7 linked regions of the Homo sapiens genome follow. The protein of the gene in region 7 purifies or fractionates together with the protein of the main gene of each other region. This does not show direct contact. Each region holds a gene or a part of one and is shown on either strand. Other genes may lie near its edges. The genes, in order: ASPM, SLC27A2, AP1S2, AP1B1, AP1G1, NFKBIE and PPP6R2.

Evidence for each region.
Region 1: the proteins of PPP6R2 (region 7) and ASPM purify together in Homo sapiens (affinity purification with mass spectrometry; 2 studies listed by BioGRID and IntAct, with this or other methods). This does not show direct contact.
Region 2: the proteins of PPP6R2 (region 7) and SLC27A2 purify together in Homo sapiens (affinity purification with mass spectrometry; 2 studies listed by BioGRID and IntAct, with this or other methods). This does not show direct contact.
Region 3: the proteins of PPP6R2 (region 7) and AP1S2 purify together in Homo sapiens (affinity purification with mass spectrometry; 2 studies listed by BioGRID and IntAct, with this or other methods). This does not show direct contact.
Region 4: the proteins of PPP6R2 (region 7) and AP1B1 purify together in Homo sapiens (affinity purification with mass spectrometry; 2 studies listed by BioGRID and IntAct, with this or other methods). This does not show direct contact.
Region 5: the proteins of PPP6R2 (region 7) and AP1G1 purify together in Homo sapiens (affinity purification with mass spectrometry; 2 studies listed by BioGRID and IntAct, with this or other methods). This does not show direct contact.
Region 6: the proteins of PPP6R2 (region 7) and NFKBIE purify together in Homo sapiens (co-immunoprecipitation; 2 studies listed by IntAct, with this or other methods). This does not show direct contact.

What each region holds. Positions count from the first base shown.
Region 1 is NC_000001.11:197,136,670-197,140,169, reverse strand, and holds part of ASPM (abnormal spindle-like microcephaly-associated protein), read left to right. Parts: intron 1-298; coding exon 299-403; intron 404-862; exon of another isoform or gene 863-1,622; intron 1,623-3,500. UniProt on the Homo sapiens protein: Involved in mitotic spindle regulation and coordination of mitotic processes.
Region 2 is NC_000015.10:50,199,196-50,202,695, reverse strand, and holds part of SLC27A2 (long-chain fatty acid transport protein 2), read right to left. Parts: intron 210-3,500; coding exon 51-209; intron 1-50. UniProt on the Homo sapiens protein: Mediates the import of long-chain fatty acids (LCFA) into the cell by facilitating their transport across cell membranes, playing an important role in hepatic fatty acid uptake.
Region 3 is NC_000023.11:15,844,814-15,848,313, forward strand, and holds part of AP1S2 (AP-1 complex subunit sigma-2), read right to left. Parts: intron 1,199-3,500; coding exon 1,090-1,198; intron 704-1,089; coding exon 566-703; intron 1-565. UniProt on the Homo sapiens protein: Subunit of clathrin-associated adaptor protein complex 1 that plays a role in protein sorting in the late-Golgi/trans-Golgi network (TGN) and/or endosomes.
Region 4 is NC_000022.11:29,378,571-29,382,070, forward strand, and holds part of AP1B1 (AP-1 complex subunit beta-1), read right to left. Parts: intron 1-3,500. UniProt on the Homo sapiens protein: Subunit of clathrin-associated adaptor protein complex 1 that plays a role in protein sorting in the late-Golgi/trans-Golgi network (TGN) and/or endosomes.
Region 5 is NC_000016.10:71,728,835-71,732,334, forward strand, and holds the end of AP1G1 (AP-1 complex subunit gamma-1), read right to left. Parts: 3' UTR 166-3,500; downstream 1-165. UniProt on the Homo sapiens protein: Subunit of clathrin-associated adaptor protein complex 1 that plays a role in protein sorting in the late-Golgi/trans-Golgi network (TGN) and/or endosomes.
Region 6 is NC_000006.12:44,260,109-44,262,551, forward strand, and holds part of NFKBIE (NF-kappa-B inhibitor epsilon), read right to left. Parts: intron 1,741-2,443; coding exon 1,518-1,740; intron 432-1,517; coding exon 343-431; intron 175-342; coding exon 1-174. UniProt on the Homo sapiens protein: Sequesters NF-kappa-B transcription factor complexes in the cytoplasm, thereby inhibiting their activity. Sequestered complexes include NFKB1-RELA (p50-p65) and NFKB1-REL (p50-c-Rel) complexes.
Region 7 is NC_000022.11:50,416,327-50,419,826, reverse strand, and holds part of PPP6R2 (serine/threonine-protein phosphatase 6 regulatory subunit 2), read right to left. Parts: intron 961-3,500; coding exon 848-960; exon of another isoform or gene 838-847; intron 482-837; coding exon of another isoform or gene 479-481; coding exon 365-478; intron 1-364. UniProt on the Homo sapiens protein: Regulatory subunit of protein phosphatase 6 (PP6). May function as a scaffolding PP6 subunit. Involved in the PP6-mediated dephosphorylation of NFKBIE opposing its degradation in response to TNF-alpha.

The sequences.
Region 1 (3,500 bases), on a different chromosome or scaffold from region 7:
TGCATATTCTCAGCACCTCGTAGAGAGTCTGGAATATACAGACACAATAAGTTTTGGTTGAATCTAGACTTTAGCCTCTGTAAACACAAAATAAATTGTGGTTTATGGTCTGTGACTTCTGGATGTTGGTTTGATAAACCACTGAATTCATAGCATTAGTGCGTGGAGTACAGTGGTTATTAAGTGTTTGCTAAATGAATATGATTGTGAAGAACCCAAACTTTAACTTTCAAATCACTGACCTATTTAGGGAATTTGTATTTTAATGCTCTTAGTTTTGTTTTCTAATTTATTTTAGATTTATCAATATTCAGAACTCCAATTTCTAAAACAAACAAAAGGACAAAACCCATTATCGCTGTGGCACAGTCCAGTTTGACCTTCATAAAACCATTAAAAACAGGCAAGTATTTATTATACTTAAACTCTCTGAAAACATGACATCGAATGAAGCATTAATTGCATTTCACATGGAAATGAATTGATTTTTGTTGTTGAATAACAGCCTGGAAGAATTGTTAAAGTGTGTATTAAAATGACAGGATATTGTGTCAACTTTCTGTTTGATAAAAGAAATAAAGACCAAATGTTCAATAGATCAGTAGGGTCACTATAGTAATTATTGTATATTTCAAAATAGCTAGAAGAGAATAACTGATGTTTCTAGCATAAAGAAAAGACAGATATTTGGACTGCGGGCACCCACGACCATGCCCGGCTAATTTTTTTGTATTTTTAGTGGAGACGGGGTTTCACCGTGTTGGCCGGGGTGGTCGGGCAATCTCCTGACCTCGTGATCCCTCCCCTCGCCTCCCAGGGTGCTGGGATTTCAGGCGTGAGCCACCGCGCCCGGCCAAAAACATGGGCTGTTATCCTTTGCTGTGGTAGGGAGTATGGATGAAGTGAAAGTTGGTAAAAGGATGGTCAGAGGCCGTCACTAGCCTTGGGGAGTTTTCCAAGTGGAAAATGAAAATCACTGTGACTTCGTTAAGCTCCAAGATATGCTTCTTTGTACCAATGTGGAAAATCTAAAAGAAAAACCTACACTCAGCACTATGAATGCTGTAGGTACCAAAAACTGCAGAAAATGGGCTTTACAGATCTGGGCCCAGACAACCAGCCAGTTAGTTTTCAAGAAATCTTTGAAGCCAAAAGACAAGAGTGCTATGATCAATGTCAGAGAGAAGAAGAGTTGAAACAGATTTATGCAGCGAGTCAAGGAGAAAGAAGCTGAAAAAGAGCTGCAGGACAAGTTCAAGCATCTTAAAATGATTCAACAGGAGGAGATAAGGAAGCTCGAAGAAGAGAAAAAACAACTGGAAGGAGAAATAATAGATTTTTTATAAAATGAAGGCTGCTTCTGAGGCACTGCAGACTCAGCTGAGCACCAATACAAAGAAAGACAAACATCGTAAGAAATAATCGTTTCTCTTAATTTTCTGTTTGAGAGCCCTATCATTCACATCCCAGCTTCCTGTGATTGTATTTGTAGCATTTAAATCTGATTGAAGTTCTTATTTTAAAAATTGGCTTGCTTATTGTATATTTTCCCTAACTAAAGTGTGAACTCCTAGTGGGGCGTGGTGGCTCATGCCTGTGATCCCAGCACTTTGGGAGGCTGAGGCAGGTGGACCATCTGAGGTCAGGAGTTCAAGACCAGCCTGACCAGGATGATGAGGCCCTGTCTCTGCTGGGAATACAAGAGTTGGCTGGGCTTGGTGGCCGGTACCTGTGGTCCCAGCTGCTTGGGAGGCTGGGAGAGTCACTTGGGCCCCAGAGGTGGAGGTTGCAGCGAGCCAGGTTCTTGCCATTGCACTCCAGCCTGGGCGACAAGGGCGGGACTCCATCTCAAGAAATAAAAAGGTGTGAACTCCCTGAAGACAGGTCCTGTGTCCATCTTTTCAGATTCTGTATCCTGGCACTTAGGATGTAGACTAACACGAAGATGACATTCAATCAATATTTGCCAAAATGAAAAAATAAACATGTAACATCATGTTAAAGGAGCAGTTTAGGTGGAGAAATTTCTTTACCATAGTCCTGCTTGTGGATCCAGTAGTGACTTTTACATTTTATATCTAAATAGAAGCTTGAGGCTTTGTTGGGGACTCATAGGCATAAAATATTATGTTATACAAATCTAATTAATAGGCCTATTTTCCTTTTTAAATTCTAATAATTTCTTGATAGTTTTTATTATGATAAAAGATTGGATTTTGATTAGAACTCTCATGCTTTTATGTCAGACTTAAAACTGATATTAGAATAAAGAATTCAAAAGCTAGAGAAAATCAGAGTACAATGAGAAGCCATGAGTTGCATTTGAATGATAATATTATGTCTTACAGATTTGGGGTATACGCTAAAGTTATCAAAGTTGTAAAAATAAGGCTGGGTGCAGTGGCTTACACCTGTGGTCCCAGCACTTTGGGAGGCCAAAGTGGGCGGATCACTTGAGGTCAGGAGTTTGTGACCTGCCCGGCTGGCATGGTGAAACCCCATCCCTACTGATAATGCAGAAGTTGGCTGGGCATGATGGTGTGCACCTGTAGTCCCTGCTACTCGAAAGGCTGAGGCGGGAGAGTCGCTTATACCCAGGAGGCAGAGGTGCAGTGAACAGAGATTGTGCCACTGCACTCCAGCATGAGTGACAGAGCGCTATGAGTCACTACACCTGGTATGAGCCACCATGCCCGGCCTACGATGACTTTTATACATGTTGTTAAATCATCTTACAGATTTTATAATTTGGGGGAAGAAAAATTTTACTAAATGGTCTTTTAATGGAAACTACAAGAACCAGAATCTTTGCTTTGTTCACTTAAGTGTCCATTCCTAGGCCTAGAACAATGTCTGACACATAGCGGCAATTATTCCTTGAATAAATGGACCCAGCAATAGTACATTAGCTATGCTATATGCATAAATTAAAAATGTAGATTATTGACTTTCAAAAAATAATTAATGTGACTTCTTACTGCTTCTGAACATGTTTGTGAGTTATATTGCTGAGGGACCTTTATCTTCTCATTCTTTCATCTTAATCCAATGTTATTAAAATTGAAATCACCAATATTATTCCATATCTAAAAATAATATCTACCTTATAAAAATTATCACTCTGCTGCATTTGAGAATAGACTTTTTAGGTAATAATAGTATGATCCATAGGGTTTTTTTAGGGCACAGAAGGATTCATGCTAACAGAACATTTTATTTTCTATTTTCCCAGAGCTATAAAACATGATATTATATGATAACTATAAGGCATATTTTTACTCTGTTCATATTTTTTCTAAAAAAAATTAGTGTTTGTTTCCCATATAACTTTTAATTTTATAAGTAAATATTTGTCTCTTTCAGCTCCAGTTTTATGTGAAATAGAGTTTCCAGATTTATGTAGCATGGAGAGTTTTAATAAGTCAGAGTTACTGATTTTTGCCAGTCATTTTCTCAGTTGTTAACTTCTTTTATCTTTAGTTGATTTTTTTTGTAGTGAC
Region 2 (3,500 bases), on a different chromosome or scaffold from region 7:
GGAAAATGTAAATGTGCACTCGCCTCCAACATTTTGTAGAAAAAGCTTACCAGCCACAATACATCCGTGAATGCCAATCAGTAGTGCAGCACTGTGGTAAAAGGGCAGAGTGATATAGATGACATCATCTGCCTTCAATCCGCTTACAAAAGTGAGGCCAGTTCCATACCATATGCGCTGATGAGTGATCATGGCTGCTTTTGGAAGACCTTTGTAAATATACAAGAGAAGGCATGAGTTAACCAAGATTGGGCATTTACAGTGTAGGAGAGAGATCTGGCTTAGGAAGATTCATCACCCTGTATTTTGAGAATTGCACTGGGAAGGGCCATGACCAGTTAGTCCAGGAGTTGACAAATGTTTTCTATAAAGGACCAGGGAGTAAATGTTTTGGGATTGTGGGTCATACAATCTCTGTTGCAACAACTGAACTCTGCTATTGTAGTCAAAAGCAGCCATACACATACATAAATGGAGTGTGGCTGTGTTCCAATAAAACTTTATTTACAAAAACAGGTGGGAGGCTGTATTTGGCCCACAAGCCATAGATTGCTAACTCCTGAGTTAGATGGTTATGACAGTAGTAATCTGAAGAGAAACAGAAACAGAGGAATGACTGTCCATTGAATTTCTGCCCTGTGGCTACCACTTTGCAAGACATTTTAAAAATCCATAACAAGTTTATATATGACATAAACAGAATTATATTCTCCAATCCACAGATGTGAAGGCTGAGAGTCAGAGAGATTTCTTACGTACTAGAGTTATTTTATACAAACAAAGCAAATATGAACATTTGCTTATATGTTCTTGCCTTTTCCATTAAAAAATATGCACACTTGGCCAGGCGCGGTGGCTCACGCCTGTAATCCTAACACTTTGGGAGGCTGAGGCGGGCGGATCACAAGGTCAGGAGATCAAGACCATCCTGGCTAACATGGTGAAACCCCGTCTCTACTAAAAATACAAAAAATTAGCCGGGCGTGGTGGTGGGTGCCTATAGTCCTAGCTACTCAGGAGGCTGAGGTAGGAGAATGGCATGAACCTGGGAGGCAAAGGTTGCAGTGAGCCGAGATAGCGCCACTGCACTCCAGCCTGGGTGACAGAGCAAGACTCCATCTCAAAAAAAAAAAAGAAATATGCACACTCTTTTGCATGTTTTTTGTCTCTGCTGCTTAACAATGTTTACTGGAGATTTGTTCATGTTTGTACATAAAGATTTCCCTTATTTATTCATTTATTTATTCTCTTTCTCAGCTCCTTCAAGTCCTTTTATAAGTGTATTATAATTTATTTATACTATTTGCTGTTATAAATGATGCTGCAGTGAAGAAGCTCGTCCACGTGGCAATTCACACTATGAATGACACCATATCTTTTGGATAAATTCACTGAAGTGAGATTGTTGTGTCAAAAGATAAAAGTTGGCCAGTCCTGTAATCCCAGCAATTTGGGAGGCTGAGGCAGGAGGATCGCTTGAGCCCAGGAGTTCAGCACCAGTCTGGGCAACATAGTGAGACCCCTCCTCTACAAAAAGTAAAACAAATTAGCTGGGTGTGGCGGTATGCACCTGTAGTCCTAGCTACTTGGGTGGGATGATCGCCTGAGCCCAGGAGGTTGAGGCTACAGTGAGCCCTGATCCTGCCACTGTACTCCAGCCTGGGCAACAGAATGAGTTTCTGTCTCAAAAAAAGAGTAAGAGTCTTTGTAATTTTGATAGATAACTTCCACATTGCCAGTTATAAGGGCTGTCCCCATTCATTCTCCTATCAGCAATACATGAGTGTGCCTGTTTCCTCCTAGCCTTGTCAATGTGTGCTCTTAAATGTTGGGGCCTTTGCCAGTCTGAAAGGTGAAAAACCGTATCTCAGTGTAGTTTTAGTACATTAGACTAAATGCGCTTGCACTTTCTTAACCATAATTTATATACGTTTTTTGTAAGATTTTCTTCTGTAAGTGTATGCTTATGTTGTTTCCCATGGAAGAACAGTTCAATTGGGGAGGGCATGAAGTCACTGGGAAGGGGACTAAGAGTTTAAGATCTGAGTGGGTAAACAGACTTCGTGAAGAGGAAGACAGATCTCTGTTGACTCAGATTCTTCAATACTTGGTGGTACCTTCACCAGATAGTGCCCAAATAGCAGCAACTTGTTACAAGGCAGACAAATATGGCTAGCAACCTACCATTATTGTAAACACAATTCAAAATTCATTTTCTTTGACAATGGCCCAGTTTTTTGTTTTGTTTTATGTATTATTATTATTATTATTATTATTTTTGAGATAGGCTTTCACTCTGTTGCCAGGCTGGAGTGTAGTGGTGTTCAAGGCTCACCACAGCCTCAGGTCAAGTGATCCTCCTGTCTCAGCCCCCCAGGTATCTGGGACCACAGGTGTGCACCACCATGCCTGGCTGTTTATTTATATTTTTTGTAGAGACAAGGTCTTGCTTTATTGCCCAGACTGATGTTGAACTCTTGGCTTCAAGTGAGCCTCCCATCTTGGCCCCAAAGTGTTGAGATTATAGATATGAGCCATCATGCCTGGCCTCTGAAATTTTTAAAAAGAAATGCTCATCTTTGTTGCCTTGAAGTACTTTCAGAACTTTCCTAAATTAAGATTTTGTATTAATGAATAAATGAGAATATCTGGTAACTATTATATAATTTTGTGCTAATGACTTCCTTTGAGGAGCAGGAACATTTATTCTCCAACTGTTTAAACAAATTCTTTTAATTAATGTTTACAAGAGTAACTTAGCACTATTTTTTTTCTACAGACAGTGCCTTGCTCTGTCACCCAGCATGGGGTGTAGTGGCACGTCACTGTAGCCTCAGACTCCTGGGCTCAAGTGATCCTCCCACCTCAGTCTCCCAAGTAGCTAGGACTACAAGGTGTACCACTATGCCAGCTAATTTTTTAATGTTTTTGTAAAGATGTGGTCTCGCTATGTTGCCCAGCCTGGTCTCAAACTCCTGGGCTCAAGTAATCCTCCTGCCTTGGCCTCCCAAAGTTCTGAGATTGTAGATGTGAGCCACTGTGCTTGGCCTAGCAAATATTTGATTCAGAGAAAATGAAAAAAGTAAAATAAACACCCTTCTAATTGTCTTCCAATTAAATATAAATTCTGACTTACGAGATTAAATCAGAGGATGCTCATTCTCTTTTTTCTCCCTAAAAGGGGTTTTCTTTTTTTTTCTTTCTTTTTTTTTTTTTTTAAGACAGAGTCTCGCTCTGTCGCCCAGGCTGGAGTGCAGTGGCGCAATCTCGGCTCACTGCAAGCTCCGCCTCCCTGGTTCATGCATGCCATTCTCCTGCTTCAGCCTCCTGAGTAGCTGGGACTACAGGTGCCCGCTACCACACCTGGCTAATTTTTTGTACTTTTAGTAGAGATGGGGTTTCACCATGTTAGCCAGCATGGTCTTGATCTCCTGACCTCGTGATCTGCCTGCCTCGGCCTCCCAATAAAAGGGGTTTTCTATTTGACTGTGAAAACATGC
Region 3 (3,500 bases), on a different chromosome or scaffold from region 7:
AGCAAAGAGAAATGCAAATACTGTTTAGTTTTGCTAACAAAAAAAACCTGGAAGTTTCTACAAAAAGTATAATTAGAAAACACTATCATTTGCTTGGCTACTTTTGCATTTAATGGACATGAGGTAAAAATATGAGCCAATTTGGAATTAAAATGTCATAATCTCATAGTCAACTCCTGATTATCTACACTAATGAAAAAGGGGGTTATCTTAAACAATTTGAAGCAATAGATGGAGAGTTCTCAACTTACTGCTACTTTCAGCCAATCTTTTCCCTTCTTCAAATAGTCTGTCCTCTAAAGGTTTAGACTCCAGTGTTTTAGGGTCCAAAAAGGGCCATTGGGAAGAGGCCTGACCGATAGACCATCTCCAAACTGAACCATCCATCCATAGATAACTGAGTTGACGTGACTGACACATATTCCAGTCAATAAACTGCACATGGATGGACACTACATGACAAGCATGCTTCAGAGTACTTTCTGAAACTGTAAGAATGATGAATGAGACTTCCCCAGCAAGAGCAAAACATGCTAGTGCCTAGTGAAGAGAATAAGTAGCTTACCTCCTGCAGTAGATCAGCCTGCTCAATTGCTTTAAGGACATTTTTCTTGGATGTTTCCTGAACTTCCCCTCCCAAAAGAAACTCATCCAAAATAAAATAAGCCTTCTCAAAATTAAAGATGATATCTAGTTCACAGACCTGAAAAGGAAAAAAAAAAGAAAAAAGAAAAGAAAAAATTGTTAAAACTTGCAGAAGCAGAAGATGCTTATTCACTATCAGGTAGTGAATAAAATCGAACTAGAGTGAATCAATCTTAACTCTTTCTAAAAATGACTAAGTATCACTGGTTTAAGTAAGCTTAATTTCCAAATCTCAAGTACTTGAAAACATATTCCTACAAGCTAAATAAGACTGGGCTCTGCATGTTCCCAATATGGACAACTTAATAATTTCTACTAATAAATAGTCATTCCCACCCTCTCCCGCGGTTAGAATCCCCAAGACAACCAAAAAATAAACTTGTTAGAGAAAAGGTTCCAAAATATACTATGGCATTCAATTTCCTAAAATAAAATACTACTCACACTGCCGAAATACTTGTCAAGTAATTCCACATAACGATGAATTATTTCCAGGGTAATTAGTTCATTGTCCTGATCCTCAATAGCACAGCAAAAATACAGACTAGCATATCTGTAACAAAGTACAAATGTGAAAAAAACTGTTATCCTATAATGATGTTTTCTAAATATATTTTCATATCCTATTATGAAAAGCCCCAAGTTTATACAGTTTATTTCTTCTTTCACGACAGTACAGATTTTTCTCATAGACTACAAAAGTAATAAACGCATAACAGAAATTTTGAAAAGCATAGGCAAGTATAAAGAAAAAATCAAAATAATCATACCACTTAGAATAAGTGATTTTGCCCTTCTTCCTTTCAGGTTCTTTTCTATAAGCATTTTAAAACATAGCAGACCCAGGTTTTTCCTAAGTTTACTTAATTAAAACAAAATATATAGCAGATTAATTCAAACTGTAAGTACAGAGAAGAAAACAAACCTTCCAACTGAAGGAGGACTTGTTGAGGATAATGCCAAGGTGAGGTCAATATTTTGGGATATTTTATTGGAATATGTATAATATATACACAGAGAAGACCTTAAGTCCTACAAGCTCAATAAATTTTCAAAGTGAACTCAACTATATATCAGCACCCACATCAAGAAGCTGAACACTACTGAACCCTGAAACTCCTCTGCTACCCTCTCCCAGTCACAACCTCCCACCCCCAAGGGTAACTATGCTCTTGACTTCTAACAGAATAGAATTGTTTTTAAAAAGGTTTCTAGGATTGCAGAATAAACCATACGAAAAGAACAACAGCTCCACGTTATTACAGAAGTTAGAGAAAGAGAACAGAAAGTTCCTATCACTTAAGGGAAACAGAGGCCTGTTCTCAAATTTACCAAGTTCTACACTGTTGAACTGAAGTGTAGTTTATTTACCCTAGAAGAGGGAATAAGGTTGGGAAACTTATATTCTCCTTCAAATTAGGATTCTAGCATATGGAATCATGTTATGCTTGACCCAAGGAAGCAAAACTTCAACCCTGAGGCATAGCAAGTCCTTTGAGGAGGATTAAAAGGGCATTTTAAAATGGTTTACATGTACTTAAGGCTTTTGAAAAGAAAGAAAATAAAAACCTAAGATAGGCTAAACACAGAACATTTCAGTGGAGATTATAATTTTCACTGAAGATCACTTAAATGATTTTTAGAAAACACAATGGGCAGTTACTGCTCGTAGCATTAATGTAAAATAATACTGTATACAGAATAACACAACCTGTTTTGAGACTCAATGAATTCTTGCTCCTTAGTATGAAAATAACTAGTATTCACACAACAGCATTAATTTCATTATTAAAACCATTTCATCTTATTTGATGTTTTCAACAGCAAGTACTATCTTTCATCCTTGATCACAGATTAAAAAAAGACAAAAAAAAAATGAGGCTTAAGAGTACAGCGCCTACAAGTGCTAGTACTGGGATAAGAAACCTGATCTTTTGACCTTAACTCCAGGCCTTTTTCCACTGTATCATACAAACTCACTTGGCATATATATCATGAGTTTGTGCATGTCTACTCTACCTGACTTCCACACTCAGTAAGTTATTTAAAATGGTGGAGCTACTGCAGTCTTATTGAGAGGAGGTATTCACATGTGTTCATTTATCATCATTGTGAAGGGAATAAGTCATGGAAGACAAAACAGGGCATCAATGCCAACTTTAACAAAGTGCTCCCTCTCTTTCCCATCGTTACTGTTTTTGTTTGTCTATTTAAAAGAGAATAGAGTATTCCAACTCTCCATCCTCCCTAACCCATGCTCATTAAATAGAACTTTGAATTTGAGGAAACTGATAAATGACACATAAGATTCCCTGATTTAAGAAAACTAAACATTAAAGGGACTGACATAAAAATGGTAGATTAAAAACCAGATATGACTAGCTGATAGGAACAGAATGCTAAATAATTTATTATACAAAGTTTACTAACAGTTTCAAGTAAAATTCCTTTTATTTAAGATTTCCTCATGCTACTATTAAACAAGCTAATGCTCGTACCATCCTCGCTCCTTATCCACAGTACTGCCTCTTTACTTACAAATAAAAAGCACTTAAACACTAGTCAAAGGTCCTAAACTGCATGAATCACTTGGAAGCATTAATTTAAAAATCATCAGAAACAATGTGTCTAAGCCCCAGCCAGTAATGTTTACTTTCACTCGGAATGGAAAAAGAATAATCAAATTAATGAATTCTTTGGTGTAGGTGAACAGATAGCTATCAGGATAATAATGTACCTCTTTCCAGAAAGCTTAGGGCAGGAAAAAAACAGAAACATAATAATTAAGTACCATTCACTGAATCCTCGCCCTACATGAGACATTAAATGTTAGCTAAGGCTTTTGCATATTTTAC
Region 4 (3,500 bases), about 21 Mb from region 7:
AAAAAAAGGCCGGGCGCAGTGGCTCACGCCTGTAATCCCAGCACTTTGGGAGGCCGAGGCGGGCGGATCATGAGGTCAGGAAATCGAGACCATCCTGGCTAACACGGTGAAACCCCATCTCTACTAAAAATACAAAAAATTAGCTGGGCCTGGTGGCGGGTGCCTGTAGTCCCAGCTACTCGGGAGGCTGAGGCAGGAGAATGGTGTGAACTCAGGAGGCGGAGCTTGCAGTGAGCTGAGATCGTGTCACTGCACTCCAGCCTGGGCAACAGAGCAAGACTCCGTCCCACAAAAAAAAAAAAAAAAAAAAGTCAGTTTCCTGAGGCCCACTAGCAATTAAAGACTTCAGAATGAAAAGGAACTAAAGGCAGACAAATGTCACATGCAAACGTTCTTATATTGGCTTTGAGTCTCTAGAACTCCATTCTAGAATCAGGTACCAGTTCTGAACTGATCTATAAGCCGTAATGTGCGGAAAGATCTGCTGTGAAGAAAAAAAAGTGATGGGCGCAGTGGCTCATGCCTGTAATCCCAGCACTTTAGGAGACCGAGGTGGGCAGATCACTTGAGGTGAGGAGTTCGAGACCAGCTTGGCCAACATGGCGAAACCTATCTCTACTAAAAATACAAAAATTAGCTGGACATGGTGGCTCGCACCTATAGTCCCAACTACTCAGGAGTCTCAGGCAGGAGAATTGCTTGAACCTGAAATCGCACCACTGCACTCTGGCCTGGGTGACAGAGCAAGACTCCATCTCAAAAAAAGAAAAAGTTCCTCTGGACTTGAAAATAAAGTAAGTAAGGCTTCTTCTGAACAATACTTAAATTAATCGAGATGAGGAGAAAGAGGCCAGAGACTACAGAACAACGCTCTTTGTGATCTCGGTTTTCCCATCTATGTAATGGGAACACTTTCTGAAGATCTGTCAAATTAACAGTGTAGAGCACCATCCGCTCCATGCCTGGAACTGTGCCCCACACGGAAGCATGCACACAGTAAACAAAGGACAGTCTTTTCTCACTGAGCTCTTACAGATTTAGAGGCCAGGTAAAGGACTGCAGGGGAACGGCAGAGTGATCATGCCTCCAGAGGAGGAGGGTTCTGAGATAGGTGGAGCAGCAAGGGAAGTTCTCTTAGATGAAGAGGGGCTTGGCTGACGCAAAAAGACAGGTCAGATTTAGAGAGGCAAGAGTGGAGGTGGCAAAGAGATGCACCACGAAATTGCCAATGTGACAACGGAGGGAACTGACAACAATTAAATCAACACTAGCTGGGGAACGGCTTCTTGCTAAGTGATTTACAACCCTTCTCATTTAATTCTCAGGGTAATTCAGTTAAAAAACAAGGAATTAGAGACACTGAGAGATGAGTGATTTACCTAAGGCCAAAACAAGAAGTCTGTGAGCCCCGCTGCCTGGCTGAAGGAAAGGACCTGGAAGGGAAAGGAGCAGACGAGGCTAGGGAAGGAAGAATGAGATTCAGAAATGGTTCTGGATGCCAGGTGTGTTGGGTCCTGCCAGGAGAAGACACAATGGTCATGTCAAATGACAAGTCTCATGCTGATAAGCATTTGACACTACTGATCACTCCCTCCTTCCTGAAAACCTGTCTTCCCTCAAATGCTAGGATGCCATGCTCTCTGCCTGCCCTCCTACGCCACTGTCTGCGCCTTCTCAGTCTCCTTTGCTTGTTCCTCTCCTTCTCCTTCAACACTGTGTGCCCCAGGGCTCAGGCCTGGTACCTCTTCTCTTCCCCATCTATGCTATTTTGCCTCTTTGGTGGATCATCCGGTATCACAGCTTTACATACCATCCACATAGCCCAACCTCTCCCCAGAACCCCCGGGCACACATGTCCAAACTGTGTAACTGACATCTCCACATTACTGTGGAGATGACTAGCAGGCAGCTCAAACAATGGGATAAAAACTGACCTCCTGCTTCCTTCCTTTCCCCAACTGGCTCACCCTGCAGTCTACATCATCTAGTTCCTGCCAGCACCATCTTTAAGAGGGCCTCAGGCTAAAAACCTGAGTCACTCTTAACAACATACTCTCCTTTAAATCTATCGGCAAATCCTATTGGATTCCGACCTTCAAAATGAATCTAGAATCCATGAGCAGCTTCTCACTAGCTCCATCACTAACCCCAGCTCCAAGCCAGCATCACCTTCCATTTAGAGTGCTAACAAAGCTGCTCCCACACTGCTTTGCTGACACCCCATCTCAGCAACAGCCAGGATGATCCTCTTACAGTCCAAATCAGACAGTAGCACCCCTCTGCTCAACGTCTTCCAACGGTTCTCTGTCTTACTCATAGTAAAAGCCAAAGTCCCTACCATGGCCTCATAGCCCACAGGTCCTATAAGAGATGCATGCCCCTCCTCTCTCACGCATGCACCCTGCTGGCCATTACCCTTTGAACTCTTCTCCCCATCATTCCCTCAGCTCCAGCCGCACAGGCCTCTTTACTGATCCTCGAACACAACATGCATCCACCCCAGGGCCTTTGCCCGTGCTATTCACTTTGCTAGGAAGGCTCTTTCTCCAGACAGCCTCATGGCTCAGTCCCTCACCTCTTTAGGTCTTGGCTCAAATGTCATCTTCTCATTGAGGCCTTCTTTGACCATTTTATTTAAAATTGTATACCCCTCCCCCATAATCCCCACCACTTCCTAACCCTCTTTGCCCTTTTTCCCTTCAAAGTACTTATTACCTATTACCTACACACTATAAAATATACTTACGTTGTCTATTCTTTCTCCCCCTATAAATTCCCTAATGTAAATGGGGGTAAGGATTTTGTCCATTTTGTTCACTATCATATTCCTGACTCCTAGGCTGGTACCTGGCAAACAGGTGTTCAATAAGTAGCTGAATGACCAGTGCTCAACTCTCTTCTTGGGCAAATTTCATGTTTTGTAAACCAACCTCTGCTAGAGCAGCTTCTCCATGTTCCATTCACGGGGTTATCCAGGATCAGAGATACATCTGCTCTGATTGTCAAGCTATTCTAACTATACTGAAATTGAACATGCCAGACCCCTAGCACATTTACAGCCAATAAATGGAAGTTAAGTGAATAAATTATGAGAGAGAGAAGAAATGGCAAGGGTAGAAGATCAGGTGGCAACATCTCCAGTGGGAGAAACGTTCAGTGAGGCCAAGTCACTCTCACCTGCTCCCATAGGTATCAGCTCAGAGTGACAGAGCTGCAGAAGGTGGGGGGCTCTGGCACAGGATATAAGTACCAGGTCCTTGCCTCCAGGCCCACATGCCTTCTTTGTTCCTCTAACAGCCAACTCTTCACTATCTCTACCCTTGCTGATCCTTCTGCTTGGATTATCCTCTCCTAACTGCTCCAATTTATCCTTCAAATCTCAGCTTAGATGATCTCATTTCAAAGATAACTTCCCTTCAGCGTGATACCTCTGATGCTTAAAAAAAGAAACAAAAAAAAAATACCTTTCCTACATGTACTATCTTTTTTGTTGTTGTTGC
Region 5 (3,500 bases), on a different chromosome or scaffold from region 7:
GCGTGAGCCACCGCGCCTGGCTACAAGTTTTTAAGTGATTCAAATTCCTCTCTTGGTGAGACTTATGTGTGAAAGGAATACTAACAGGTCAGTAAGTTAGCTCAACCTCTGGAATAAGAATTCATCTAAGTCTTCTAATCCAATTGTAAGAAGCAAGGAAGCAAATTTTAAATCATTGGGTATTGACTTTTTATTATTAGTCACTGTTCATAATTTGTTTCAACCAAAAGACAGTACACACAGCAGAATTCTAATGCATCCCATGTAAATGTTTACATCCATTTTATTCCTCACTCGCCTCTAAGACTTATCATTTAACTTTAAATTTTTTTTTTTACATCTCAAAAATATGTCTGCAATAATTAGAGCTTCATTAGCTGTCCCACTTGGAAACAGCTTTTTAATATTTTTACAGTAAAGAAGATGTGATGGGGCATAATGAAAATGTAACTTACAACACTAAGAAAGAAAAGGGCCTTTATAGGAACACAGTGGGAGTTCATAAAGGAAAGAGTTCAGAAGCTCTTTCCCATGGGGCCCCCAAATGGAAAACAAAAACAAAACACACAAAGCGCAACCGCAGGTTCTTTGAGGGAAGAAAAAAAAAAAAAAAAAAACCAACTCCAAGGCTCCATCTTGAAGCCAGAATCAGCCTCTTGGAAGTCTGTAAAGCAACTGTGCAAGCTGCTTCGGCATTTCCTTCTGTTAAAGTGTTCCAGGTCCTGGAACCCTGTCGATGGGACCCACTCACTGATATTGCTTGAAAAAGTTATTCACTTCCAGTTCTACAAGCAGCCCCACTCTCCCGAGCCAAAGCTGGTCAAAAGTGTTTTAAACTTCAGGACTTTCTGTGCAATTCTCTCTCCAATGATCCTACCCACTCCCAAAGTCATGAATACACAGACATGTAAAACCACTCTCCCAACTACAAAGTTCATGAACACCCACTTTTTCCTCTCTAGTTTTCTCAGTTTAGGACACTGTGGTTAAAATACATTCACTAGAAAAAAATAGACACATTCAAACTCCTTTCCCCTAGTTCTCATGGCCCAAATATTTTCCAATGCAGAAGATAATGAAGTTGAACCTTGAAAGCAGTACTCCCTAACTTCCAATTTCTACGACATAAAAAAAATGGGAAGCATGTTATATAAACCATTAGTGTTGGACAGTTTTAAAAGTCTATTTTCATATATGAATGGGACAAACAAGGAGTACAAATCACACCTTTAAACTAGCAAGAGGAAAGAATCCCCTCCCAAATGTTACACTGAGGAATGTTTCTTTAAATGATAAAGACCTTAAAATTAACAGATGATCACTATGCACAGCCTAAAACTTCCGTGACTGTCCAAACCACCTCAAGGTAACAGCACCAAAGCACTGTGGGAGAAGCTTCTCAGGGAGAGCACCCTTCCTACAGTTTTTTGAGATTACTTAGATGAATTAATTCTCCTTTAGGATTCCCCGGGATGGGGCAGAAACTAGAATAGAAACGACTCTTGAAGAGGGAAATAATGAAGTACAAGTGCATGTGAAATTGTCAAAGTAAGTGTGTGAGGGCTCACTGCTTATCACCCCAGGGTTATCAAAACAGCCTTGGAAAATGCTCTTTCCTCACAATGCCTGTGAAGTCGTAAATCCATCCAAATTTGCTCCCCCTTGAGTGGTTATACTCGGGAAAGGAATTATTGAAATGTGCAAGTATTCAAAGAAATTGAAACATTTCTCCATTTAGCTGCAAGGCCAAGTGAGAGGAAAACTAATTCTGATCCTAGAAACTAAGGCACGCTGAAGCTTTCAAAGATCCAATCATTTGAAACAGTCTTCACAACCATCAGTATCCTAGGCAGTTATTTGGCTGCTAGTCCTTCAGTATGGTGCTTGTGTTCTGATTCCAAAATCAATTCATATTCTACGCAGCACCCTTTGTGTTAAGGCCATGATATTTTACTCCTTCTAGACAAAGCTATGAATGATCATAAACTCTACCTCGAAACTATGATCACCCAAGGAAATGCTCTGTCAGCAGAGTAGACCCTTCCCAGCTCCATTAGCTGACAGTGTCTTATAGCATGGTCTTGAACAGATTTCTTCAGAGATTCAACCCAGTTCAAATAAAAAAACCTGAGCTGGTTAGCTACAAATATAAGAGAGAAAATAAAGCCTCTACACAAAGAGGAATGTTAAGACAAATTCTATTCAAGAAATCCACCAACATTATGTTAATCCTATCATGTTTCACAGCATTAAGTATCCATCCAATGAAATCAGTCTGCAAAGAAACCCTTAAAGGCTATTTTTCATTGCACAGGCAGAGCAGTTGTCTGAAATATGCACTAGTCCACACTTACATTACTGAAAACTATGCAGGAGATATTATCCTGTTCTTGACTCAGTCAACCATTTACCCAGTGGAGTAAGTTTTAGCAGATCTTGCTCATACACACTAGTAAGACCAGAAACTTTCCCGTGGAGCCTTTAGTTCAACTCCAGTTTGTCAAATGTTAGGAATATTCCAGCATCTGATACAGAGCTAGATTTGACAAGACACTGAAGATTTTAAGTAAAGGCTTGGTGAAATGAAGGGGAAAAAAAGGGATATTTGTTTCCAGGTTTAAGATTGAAGCCATAGTAGTCATTATACTGTATTCAATACAGTAACAATTGCAAACATTGTAAGAGCAAGGTGGGCCTCACTTTTTCTTTCTTCAGTATATAAGACATGGCGCCTGAATACTTGAACATACATAGTACATTCAATGTGTACCACAGAGAGAGTCACCTCTACTTCATTCCAGCAACTCAATTTCAAAGTTTGATAACATATGGGTCCTTTCTAAAAAGCACTTGGCACTCTCACTAGTTTAAAAAGCTCAAGTCTTTGATGTGAATATTCATGAGATTCGTCTTTTAAAAGAGACCAATTTCTCAGACTGAGGAAAGGCTATTCCTACCCTATGGTGTCCGTAAGACCTCCTCTGACATAGGGGTATGGAAGCTACAAGGCTTCACTCCAACACCATAAAGTACAATATGGAAAGATTTCTTTAACCGTGTGGTCTTTATTTCAGTGCCAGTGTTACAGATACAACACAAATGTTCCAGTTAGAAGGAATTCAAACGGAATGCCAAGGTCCAAGCCAGGCTCAAGAAATAAAAAGGGAGGTTTGGAGTAATAGATAAGATGACTCCAATACTCACTCTTCCTAAGGGCAAAGGTACTTTTGATACAGAGTCTGATCTTTGAAACTGGTGAACTCCTCTTCCACCCATTACCATAGTTCAAACAGGCAAGTTATGGGCTTAGGAGCACTTTAAAATTTGTGGTGGGAATAGGGTCATTAATAACTATGAATATATCTTTTAGAAGGTGACCATTTTGCACTTTAAAGGGAATCAATTTTGAAAATCATGGAGACTATTCATGACTACAGCTAAAGAATGGCGAGAAAGGGGAGCTGGAAGAGCCTTGGAAGTTTCTATTACAAATAGAGCAC
Region 6 (2,443 bases), on a different chromosome or scaffold from region 7:
GCACAGAGTGGATGAGATGCCCATGAGACCCCGGCCAGCTGCCAGGTGCAGGGGTGTGCACCCGTTCAGCATGCGGGCATCTACCTGGGCACCAGCCTGGAGCAGGAACTGTACCAGGCCCCGCTCTTGGGTTTCCACAGCCAGGTGCAGCGCTGTCTTACCACTGGTGCCCTCCTGGGGAGGAATAAGGATGTCAGCCAAGGCCCTCAGAGGCAGTGTGCTGGGCCTGGGCTCTGGATAAGGAAGTGAATGCCACCACTTCTGACTGCTGGGCAGGGGACTTGGGGATGTGTCAGGTGGGGGCAGGCCCTGGGCCGGGCAGTGCTTTGCTGGCTGTCTCACCTGCACATCAATGTCAGCTCCATTCCGAAGCAGCAATTCCATGAGTGGTTGGTTCTTCTGAAGGGTGGCAATGTGGAGACAAGCCAGACCTGGGATGGGGTGAGAGTGAGGGTGAGGGCTGCTGATCTGCATCCACCAACTCCCTCTCTTCTGGGACCTCCCTACCACTCAGCCCCAAGGGACTCACAGCCCACTCAATGTCTCTAATCACAAGACTGTTAAAATGCAAACCCCAAAACCCCCTCAAAAGTCTAAGGGGAAAGGAACTCAAAGTTTCCACCTTTTCAGAGTCATGTTATTGAAACTTTCATGCTTCAGGGGTCAGGCTGCTGAGTGACACCCCCAAAGAACACCCTCCTCCTATACACAAACTACAACACACACACACACACACACACACACACATACAGACACACACACACACACACACACACACACACAACCTGCCTTCAAGCCCAGTCTGAAAGCCACCTTTTCTGAAAAGCCACCTAAGATCCTCATGCCCCCAGCCCTTTCTCAGGGGCCGCTTCCTTCTGTGCTCCCCTGGCCTTTTTGCTCTCCTTTCTAGTCTGGACACTCCCGACCCTTGCTTAGTAATAGAGATTTCGATTCAAATTTACATTCTTCACCTTCCTCAGGGCGCTATTCAGATGTCACTGGCTCCATGAGGCCTTCCCGGACCACCCTATTTAACAATCATATCAACTCTCCTACTCCCCACATTCCTTCCTCTCACTCTGCTCTGCTTTTTACTACAGCACTTACTTCCTTTTAACATATTACATAGTTCACTTCTTACATTTATTGCTCATCTCAATCTTTCTCTATTTTGCACACAGATGCAAGTGTAGCTCCTAGGATAACGTCTGGCACATAGAAAACCCTCAGTACATTTCTGTTGAATGAATGAATCAGGTCATCTAATCTCTATTAAACTAAGTATCTTAAGGGCAAGATTTAGTTTTCTTCTCAGCAGGCAGTAGGTACTGGTTAAATTCGAAATCAAATCATCCATTCATTCATTTGGCAAAGATGTACTGAATATCTATGTGCTTACAGTGGGAGGGGCACCAATGGACAAGCTGGGACCCTCCCTTCCCCAAGAGTGAGGTCCCTATCTCCTATGCCCTCCTCATCCCACAGGCCCTAAGGGCAGTCTTAAAGACTGTCCACACCTTGCCAGTTTTGCAGCTGGAGGTCCAGAGAGTGAGATGTTCCTCTGCCTGGCTCTGGCCGCCCTTCCAGCAGGCAGCGGGCACAGGCCAAGTGCTGGCGCTGGCAGGCCACATGAAGGGCTGTGTCACCATGCCGGTCCTGTAGTGCCCGGCTGGCCCCCTTCAGCACCAGTGCCCGAACTGCGCCCGGTTGGTCCAGATGTACAGCCAGATGGAGTGCTGTCTGGAGGCACAAATAGAGGGTCATGGGGCCACTGCAGCATGCTCCCACCTCTGGGAACATGCTTGGGCTCAAGAATCACCAGCTGCCAGCATCTTCTTTGAAAGCAGCTTATAAAGGCCATAACCTGTTCTTCCAAGGAAATACTACCGAGCCCTTCCCCTGTCACACCCCTCCCCCACCAAGCTCTTGGGATCCCAATTCTGGAAGCAAGGTGAAGAAAGTAGCTCTCTGCTTTTCTTGTAAGTCACCTTAGGCCCTGGAGAAAGGACATGTAGGAGGAGAGTCTAGCCCCTCACCCTGTGAGGAGACCTCTGTTACCCCCAGGGGTTAGGCTGCAGGAGGAAAGATAGAGGCACCGGGCAGTCTCTCCCTGGCAAAACTCTCTGTTAGGCTCCATTCAGATGGCATCTCCTCTGTAAGCCTTCCCTGGCTGCTGCACACAGACACTGGACCCTATAGCAGCTGGTATGTGTCTCTATCACAACTCTTGTCACCAGGCTGTGTATTTAGCTGTTGATACAAGTCCCCCAGCCCAGGATGCAAGCACCTCAGGACAGAGGCCATGTCTTACTTGGGTCTGTCTCCTCAGTTTCTAGCTCAGTGTCTGGCATATGGTTTCCTAAGTGAGCAGCCTTTGGACTGGTATGGCTGCTGGGAATGGCTGCCAGGGCACAAACAGGTATCTGGGCATAACATTCTCTCG
Region 7 (3,500 bases):
GCATCAGAGTGGAAACCCTGCGACACACACACAAACACACACGGGAGCTGTGGGGACTTGTCGGAACAGTCCTTGGGGAAAACCTGCCAACCACACCTGTTCCACGCACATCGACAAATGCATCGCCAACTGGTCGTGACGAGCAGCTTCAGGCTGGAGAGGGAGCACCAGTGATGATGAGGGTCTAAGGGGACTTGGCCACAGCCATAAAGTCAAGCCTTCAACAAGGGGAATCTATCCATGTTGTTACTTGCATAATCAAAAATTAAAACCACAAATGACATAATCCAGACTGCTCGTGTGGGCTGCCATATCACTGAGGCGTCAAGTTCAGCTCTACACGATTTCTCCTCGTGAGACTCACCCAACCCGCCTGGTTTCCAGCAAGGTGAGTAACACCTGAGTCCCACTGACGAGGCAGCTCTCCGTCCGGTCTCCATCAAACATGTTCTTCAGAAGCTGCTCCACACAGTCCTGCCTGCTGGACACACACAGAGGTCACTGCCTGGCAGAGCAGACACACACACAAAGGATGCAAGGATGCTCCTTCCTCCCCGTGGAGGACCCCAGCAAAACCCTCAACCTGCTCAGGCTCAAGGCAAGGCGCCAGGGTTCTCAGGACACTCCTGCTGCTGCTGGCCCACTCTCTAGACCCACCAGGTGACTCCTCTGGAGACCCCTCCCTCTGGAAACAGGCCCCAAGTTAACATGGGCTCTGAACCTGGGGTTCATTCGAATGTGAATCAGAGGAGGTGGCAACATATCCTGGTGCTCAGAGCAAGGCTCACAGACGTCCCCATGACCCAGAAAGGGAGGCCCACCAGCACCACGGCCCACCAGCACTCACGACTCCAGCGCTGTGAGGAGCGGGTCTGGCTCCAGAGCCTCTTGCAGCTGACTGCCCTGGTCTCTGCCCAGCCTAACTATGTCACAGAGAGTCTGAGAAGCATTTGACTGCCTCTGAAAAGACAAGGGAAACACAGAGTCCCTCAGTGTGGAGAAGAAACAGCAGGACCAGCCCTGCTGGGCACACAGGGCACAAGTCCTGCTGCTTCTCTGGCAGATGCTAGACTTTCGTTGTTGTTCAATACCACTGTGATGTTCAAATACTTTTTCTTTTTTTTTAAGATGTGGGACTTTTGGCCAGGCACAATGGCTCAGGCCTGTAATCCTAGCACTTTGGGAGGCCAAGGCAGGCAGATCATCAGGTCAGGAGATCAAGACCATCCTGGCTAACACGGTGAAACCCCATCTCTACTAAAAATACAAAAAATTAGCCGGGCGTGGTGGCGGGTGCCTGTAGTCCCAGCTACTCGGTTGGCTGAGGGCAGGAGAATGGCTTGAACCTGGGAGAAGGAGCTTGCAGTGAGCCAAGATCGCACCACTGCACTCCAGCCTGGGTGACAGAGCGAGACTCCATCTCAAAAAAAAAAAGAAAAAGATGTGGGACTTTCTCTAAACCAGTTTCCTACAAAGAAAGATTCCAGACAACAGCTTCATTTCAAAGAAGCCTGTGTCTGCCTTTTCTGTCGTCAAAATGTAGATCTGGTTAGAGTTTTCTTTTTTTTAAAGCTGCATTGAACTATCTTCAGGAATTCAAAACAGGGCTAATAATGGTCAGATATGCAATGCAGATACTGGGCTATACCTGTGATCCACGTTTTGAAATATGCTGAATATGTGGCCATGTTACTGATACTATATTTTAAATGTGGTAATAAGTAGCTGCTATTATTCAGAATGAGTCCTGTAAGCTAATGAAAATAGGGAAGTTGCTACCAAGAAAACAGAGGACTCATCTTTTCTAGGGAAACATTAACACGCAATCCGTGATGGGAACGTGCCCCTGCTGACAATGTAGGGCTGTTCTGTAGGTAAGACAAATGTGATTAAGAGAGAAACAACCCCTGACTCCCTGCAGCATTGGTTCACATGCTGTGGGAAGACTGAGGGAAAGCAAACACTCACAGGAGTATTTTAGGGAGAAAAGAAAGCAGCCAGATTAGCTCTCAGGTCTGCCTTTGGGACCCAGGCCAGGCCATCAGCCCACAACACCCACATGCATGGGTGGGCTCCAGTTCTCAGGCAGGGCGGCCTCCTTGCTTCCTACAGACGCCAACATCAGGCAGGGCGGCCTCCTTGTTTCCTACAGACGCCAACGTGGCCTCTCCTGTCTGTCTGATCAGCCCTGTGGGCTGATGGAGAACAAAGTAGGGTGGTTGGCCAGGCAGCGGTGAAGGCCTCAGACACGAGTCAGCACCACTGTTTTCCAATCTGCCAAGGACACGTGGTTGTATGTATAGATCGGTATGTGTAATGCTAGGAAAAGGCCTACTGGGATATACCCCAAACTCTCAACAGGGATCACCACAGGGAGCCCCATTGTCACCTTAGGTGCTTCCAGGGTGGGTGGCTCCTAGGGGGCCCCTAGCAATCCCGTCCTGGAGTTCATGCCTTTATAGCCCCCATCTCTTTTAGTGTGGGCTGGACCCAGCCACCCAGGTCTAAAGAGCCAAATACATTAAGAGTGAGGGGAAAGCTCAGCTCCACGTTGTGTGCTGCCCTGTGGAGACGCCCATGTGGTGCAATGCTGAGGGCGGCCTCGGCCCACAGCCCTGAGGAACTGGATGCTGCCAAGCCATCTGTGACCATGGAGCTGGCCTCTACCCCAGTGGAGCTCTGAGATGACTGTATTTTGTGAGACTCAACAGAAGAGCCACTAAGCCACATTCAGACGCCTGATCCACAGAAACTGATACTGCTACAGGTAAAAATACTTGCCATAAGCAACTACATTTCAGGGTAATTTGCTATTCGGTCACAGACGACTGATACAATTCTATTAGAATTGTTCTTTGGTTTGCTTGTTTGTTGAGACAGAATCTCACTGTCGCCCAGGCTGGAGCACAGTGGTGTGATCTCGGCTCACTGCAAGCTCCCCTTCCTGGGTTCAAGTGATTCTTGTGCCTCAGCTTCCTGAGTGGCTGGGATTACAGGCACCTGACACCACACTTCGCTAATTTTTAGTAGAGACAGGGTTTCGCCACGTTGGCCAGGCTGGTCTCAAAACTCCTGACCTCAAGTGATCGGCCCGCCTCAGCCTCCCCAAGTGCTGGGATTACAGGCATGAGCCACCGCGCCTGTCCTATTTTTATAATACACATAGATTATTTTTCAGTTAAGAAAAAAAAGTGTAGGCCAGGCATGGTGGCTCACTCCTGTAACCACAGCACTTTAGGAGGCTGAGGTAGGAGGATCACTTGAGGCCAGGTTTTTGAGACCAGCCTGAGCAATGTAGTGAGACCTCATCTCTATTTAAACAACAACAACAACAAGAAGAAAACAGCCTAGAGGCTGGGTGTGGTGGCTCACCCGACTGGGTGAGCAGGAGAATTGCTTGAACCCAAGAGGCGGAGGTTGTGGTGAGCCGAGATTGCACCACTGCACTCCAGCCCAGGCAACAAGAGCGAAACGCCATCTCAAAAAAAAAAAGAAAAAAA